Regions from separate parts of the Homo sapiens genome. Here region 1 is linked to region 2. Evidence: fine-mapped expression QTL. Tissue or cell type: whole blood. Region 2 holds a variant in brackets; the other region holds the start of a gene. All regions are shown on one strand. Distances are from middle to middle. Region 1 holds the start of DAP (death associated protein). Region 2 has its middle 97 kb from the start of CTD-2154B17.1.

Region 1 (2,912 bases), 120 kb before region 2:
GCATCAGTTAGACATTTTTCTTTCCCAGTGCCAGTTAGTTTTGTTGTAGAGAGCCTCCGTCACCACTGAAAAATATTGCCTACTCTGGACTGCAACATATTTAAAGAACGGCTCCTATTCATTGTGCTGGTGCAGAGAATTCCCGCCCTATAGCGGAGGACAGCAGAGAAGGATAATGGGAATCTTTTTTTTTTTTTTTTTTTTTTTTGAGATGGAGTCTCGCTCGCTTTGTCGCCAAGGCTGGAGTGCTTTGGCTCAATCTTGGCTCACTACAACTTCTGCCTCCCGGGTTCAAGCCATTCTCCTGCCTCGGCCTCCTGAATAGCTGGGATTACAGGCGCCCGCCACCATGCCCAGCTAATTTTTCTACTTTTAGTAGAGATGGGGTTTCACCATGTTATCCAGGCTAGTCTTGAACTCCTGACCTCAAGTGATCCACCCTCCTTGGCCTCCCAAACTGCTGGGGTTACAGGCATGAGCCACCGCGCCTGGCCAGGAATCTTTATTGTCAAGAAAATGGCGCAAATGTGCCACCAAAAGAAGCCATGTTTCTCAAAGACTTCTGTTCCTACAAGACTGAGTTTATGACACTAAGGCGTGCTATTAAGACCTAAAAGAACCTCACGCATCCATACATTGAAGTGACTTGGCTTCTGAGACCCAAGGCCTTTGATCTTCTCACCAGTGTCCCTCCATATGGGCCGACTGCCACTGGAAAGGAGAGTAGAAACGGAAACAGACCCGTCTGGACAGAATCCAAAGTGCAAACAGGAACTGTGCCCAGAGAGAGGAGGAGGTGGCAGAAGCATGAAGGCTGCTTAGATCCCTATGTTCTAAGAAAGACCGCTCTTTCCTGGCTTTAACTTCCTTGGCTCAGAAGTTTAGGATTTGCTCAAAATCAGAAAAAGCAACTTTGGGGGAAAAAAAAAATCTGGATGTGGAAGAAACTGGCGGTGAAAGTCATATTGAGTGATTAATGATAAAAATTATTTCCGCTCCTTGGTTCTTGAGTCGGTATGAAACGCTGGCAGCCTCTAATTAATCATCACCATGATATTAACACCACTGACTTTTCATTGCTTCTGCTACTTTCTTTCTAGACATCTGTATCCTCTAAGTAAATATTATCCGCCAAAACTTTGTTATAAGTTGTGCAACTGGGTTCGCCCAAGGCACCGGAGCCTGCGCGCAATCGCACAGGTACGCGGCCGCCCGCGGTCCTCAGGAAGAAACGCTTCGCCGCCGCCGGCAAGCGGGGCCGAAGCTCCGGCGGGCTCCTCCCGGGCCTGGGCGCCCGACCTCTCCGCGGCCCGCGCCCCTCGGGCGGGCATCAAGGCCCGGAACCCGTCTCAGCGCTCGCCGGGGCCCTCCCCGCGGAGCCCCCGCCCGGCGCCCCCGGGTTCGAGCCCGCCCCCGGCACCCGCGCGTGGAGAGAGAGGAAAAGAGTCAGTACCGGCGGGCGGGTGTCCAGCTTTAGTCTCTAGTTTCCCTTCGGGAGGCGAAGACATGACGCGGCGGGGCTTCCGCGGGGCCGAGGCGGCGGCGCGGTTCTCGGGCCGGGCGGGCGTGCGCGAGTGAGCTCAGGTGTGAGCGCCGGGGAGCGAGCGGGCGGGAGAACGACGCGCGCGCGTGGGGCGCCGGGGCCGCGCGAGCCGGGTGAGTGCCACTGCCGTTAAGGGGGCGCGGCCGCCGCGCGCCGACGTGGCGCAGCCGAGCCCACCGACGGCATGCGCACTGACGTCACCGCGGCCCGCCCGCCCTGCTGGGCCGCGAGCCAAGCATACGGTGCGTGCGCAGCCGGCCGCGCCACGTCGGATGCTGTGGCCGGGGGCGGGGGCGGGGGCGGGGGCGGGGGCGGAGGAGGGAGGGGAGAGAAGGGGTGAAGAAGTGAGAGGGAGAAGGAAGGAGAGGGAGGCGGGGTCCCCGACTGGCTGCGGGGACTGGAGTTGCGGAAAGTTAAGTAGGGCCCAGCTGAGGATGGCTCCTGCAGCGAACGCGCTCAGCCGGGCTCCTGGCTACGCGGCGACGGCTGGGTGACTGCGCCCCACAGTGCGGGCCAGGGCCGGGGCGTCCCGGCAGGGAGGCGACCGTCCCCTGAGGCCCTCAGCCCCTGCCGCGGCAGCGCCTAATGAAGCGCGGAAAGGAGAGCCCAGATGGCAGCGACGGGGGCCGAGAGAGCAGGAATTTGTTAAAAGACGATGCGAGGGGAGAGCCTGCTTTCCGAGTGAGGGCCAGCGCTGGGGAGCAGAGACGGTGGCTTCTGTCCCTGCCCTCCTCGTTATGAACCAAAAATAAAATTCTAAGCCCTGCAGCCAACGGATGGACCCTCCCCTCCGCCTGTGGCCTTCTAAGTTATCTTGAAAAACTAGTTCAGGCCTTGATGGGAAGCGGAAGTCAAACATGGCCTCACAAACATCCGCACGGAGACCCTAAGACTAATAGAGGACTCTGATAAGAAACATTTGCAGTGTATTCCCGGCTTCATCTGCATGATAACACCTTGGTCTCCACAACTCCTTCATGCAACCCGGACATTCCCTTCTACTGAGTCCAGGTCTTTAGATGATAACTCTCAACCAGTTGCCAATCAGAAAACCTTTAAATGTACCTATGACCCGGACGCCTCCACTTCACATTTTACCTCCTAAAGAGCCAACCTACATCTTACGTATTGATTGATGTCTCATGTCTCCCTCAAATGTATAAAACCAAGATGTTTCCTGGCCACCCTGGGCACATGTCATCAGAACCTCCTGAGGTTGTGTCAATGCACGTCCTTAACCTTGGCAAAATAAACTTCCTAAATTGAGACCACTCTCAGAAACTTTTGGTTTTCACCATCATCTTCCTGTTGCCGTGGCTGACCCCTGGCTCTCGTGCCTTGGATCGTGTTCTTCCCGCCTGCCCCAGTG
Region 2 (2,912 bases):
TCTCGAAGCTGAGACCCTGGGCATTACTAATGTCACCTGGGCTGCTCAAGTAGCTCCTTCGAATAACCACCAAAAGAACTCAACCCCAGCTTGACCAACATGGAGAAACCCCGTCTCTACTAAAAATACAGAAAATTAGCCGGGTGCGGTGGCGCATGCCAGTAATCCCAGCTACTCGGGAGGCTGAGGTAGGAGAATCGCTTGAACCCAGGAGGCGGAGGTTGCAGTGAGCCGGGATCGCGCCACTGTACTCCAGCCTGGGCAACAAGAGGGAAACTCCGTCTCAGGGAAAAAAAAAAAAAAAAGAACTCAACCAGTGAAAAAAGCAGGCCCCACCTCAGTCATACATAGACTTCTGCTGCATTTCTTAGAAAATGCTCCTTTGCCTTCTTTTGCCAGCAGGTGAGTGCACGCATTTGTCTAAGCGACAGGGAACTGCCCGTGCAAGGAAGGAGGGCCGAGCGGGTGGAGAGGGATGTGGAAATGGGAGCCACCTGCGATGCTCTGTATCTCCCTGTAGGGATGGCAGTAGCTAAAGAATGGTGAGAACCAGAACACCAGAGACAGGGAGGGAGAGATGAACAACCAGGTAGTCATCTAACCTCAAATAACAGCATAACAGTTATAAACAGCAAATTCTACCAAGTATTCAATTAACCCCAATGGAAATAGAAAAGGAGGAGCAGAGAAACCAAAAATAGATGGGATGAACAAGAAACAAATAGTAAAATAGTAGATCCGAATCCCACTTTATCTTTCAAATGTAAATGTAAGAGCCCATCATGTGTAAATGGACTAAACACTCTAAGAGGCAGAGGTAGTCTGGATGGATATAAAAGCAAGGCCCAACTCAAGAAAGCAAGATGTGCTTTAAATACACAGATATAGATAGGTTGAAAGACATGCAAGTAAGTAGGTGTTAAAAGATGTACCATGCGTATAGCGTAAAAATACTGGGGTAGCTATATATTAATATCAGATAATACACATCACAACAAAAAATATTACCAGAGATAAAGAGGGACACTTTATAATGACAAAGGGTCAATTAATCAGGAAGTTAAAACAATCATAGATGTATATGTCCCAAATCACAGATCTTCAAATAAAAATACACATGACTAATTTAAAGCAAACGTTATACCATGCCATGTGGAATTTATAATAGATATGATAGCTACAGCATCTAGGATGGAAGACAGATCAAGTGACCAGTAAGGCTGCAAGTTTCATTATGTTATATGAAGTAGTACCTTAGAAGTAAGTAGGCTGTGCACTATGTACCATAGCAAAGACTTGGAACCAACCCAAATGCCCAGCAATGATAGACTGAATAAAGAAAATGTGGCACGTATTCACCATGGAATACTATGCAGCCATAAAAAAGGA[T/A]GAGTTCATGTCCTTTGCAGGTACATGGATGAAGCTGGAAACCATCATTCTCAGCAAACTAACACGGGATGAAGCTGGAAACCATCATTCTCAGCAAACTAACACAGGAACAGAAAACCAAACACCACATGTTCCCACTCATAAGTGGGAGTTGAACAATGAGAACACATGGACACAGGGAGGGGAACATCACACACTGGGGCCTGTCGGGGGGTGGCGGGCTGGGGGAGGGATAGCATTAGGAGAAATACCTAATGTAGATGATGGGTTGATGGGTGCAGCAAACCACCATGGCACGTGTATACCTATGTAACAAATCTGCACGTTCTGCACATGTATCACAGCACTTAAAGTTTAATTAACAAAAAAAAGAAGTAGGCTGTGAAAAGATAAAGATGTATAGTCTAATCCCTAGAATGACCACTTAAAGTGCAAAGATAAATAGTTAAAAAATCAATAGCTGTATTACAGTGGCATTCTAACAAATATTCATTCAACACACCAATGCACACATACTCCCACTCCTCACATACCTCTTTCTTTTGGATGATGGAATCTACCAAACGAATAATAACATAGTGGATCTTTCATGAAGGCAAGTACTTCCTTAGCTTTTCTAATATAAAGTAGCTCCATAATTAGTTGTAATTTCGGTAAATTATTGCCCATTATAAACTGCTAATTCGATACATGTTCATTCCTTTCCGTAGCTAATTTAGAAAGTCTTCACAGTGGGGTTGATTCTGGTTTGTGGATTTTGTGCGTCTGGTTTTGTCAAGTAGAATGGTCCAACTATCAGTTCCAGGCCTCAGTAGAAAGTAACCCACGTAGTCTCACTTTCCTGAGGATCCTCAATAAACTTCCTAGAAGATGTAACTCTTGAGATTTCCTGAATGCTGAGTTCTGCCAGTGACAGGTGTAATCACCGTTTACATTCCTGATGTTAGTAGAGAAAAATGAGGCAGGCCCATTGGGGAACTCACACAGGAATAGACAATGATTTAACGCATAACAATGTGATGATCGTGGCTTTGGGTCTGGTCACTGTTTCCGTGAGCATGTACCAAGATGGTATGAGCTGTCCTTGCAGCAAGATGGAAAGTGCATTCCACTAGCTCCCTTAGACCTTCTCGCATGGATTGTGGTTCCCTGTGGGCCCCCCACATCCTGTATTCGTTTGATTGACTTCTCAGTCAAGTCTCTACATTTGTTTTATTAATGTCACTTTGAAATCTTGTCAAGAGGCAGGCATGGTGGCTCATGCCTGTAATCCCAGCACTTGGGAGGCTAAGGCAGGTGGATCAACTGAGGTCAAGAGTTCGAAACCAGGCTGACCAATGTGGTGAAACCCCGTCTCTACTAAAAATACAAAAATTAGCCGGGTGTGGTTGTGGGAGCCTGTAATCCCAGCTACTTGGGAGGCTGAGACAGGGGAATCGCTTGAACCCAGGAGGCAGATGTTGCAGTGAGCCGATATCGTGCCATTGCACTCCAGCCTGGGCAACAAGAGCAAAACTCCATCC

Evidence for each region. PIP is the estimated chance that this variant, and not a neighbour inherited with it, causes the effect.
Region 1: it holds the start of DAP, and the variant in region 2 is fine-mapped to the expression of DAP in whole blood (TOPMed, PIP above 0.99). The same link has a PIP of 0.9 or more in testis.

The regions. Positions count from the first base shown.
Region 1 is chr5:10,759,561-10,762,472 of GRCh38, forward strand. It overlaps DAP (death associated protein), which reads right to left and starts at 1,674. Exons shown (of 4, transcript NM_004394.3): 1 at 1,454-1,674. The coding sequence starts at 1,508. It overlaps DAP-DT (DAP divergent transcript), which reads left to right and starts at 1,476. Exons shown (of 3, transcript NR_187555.1): 1 at 1,476-1,656. RefSeq lists silencers at 1,230-1,659, 1,740-2,209 and an enhancer at 1,732-2,577.
Region 2 is chr5:10,882,775-10,885,686 of GRCh38, forward strand. No RefSeq gene overlaps it. Among named protein-coding and RNA genes, the nearest start is that of CTD-2154B17.1, 97 kb to the left of the region's middle. The variant T/A (reference allele first, on the strand shown) is at 1,390.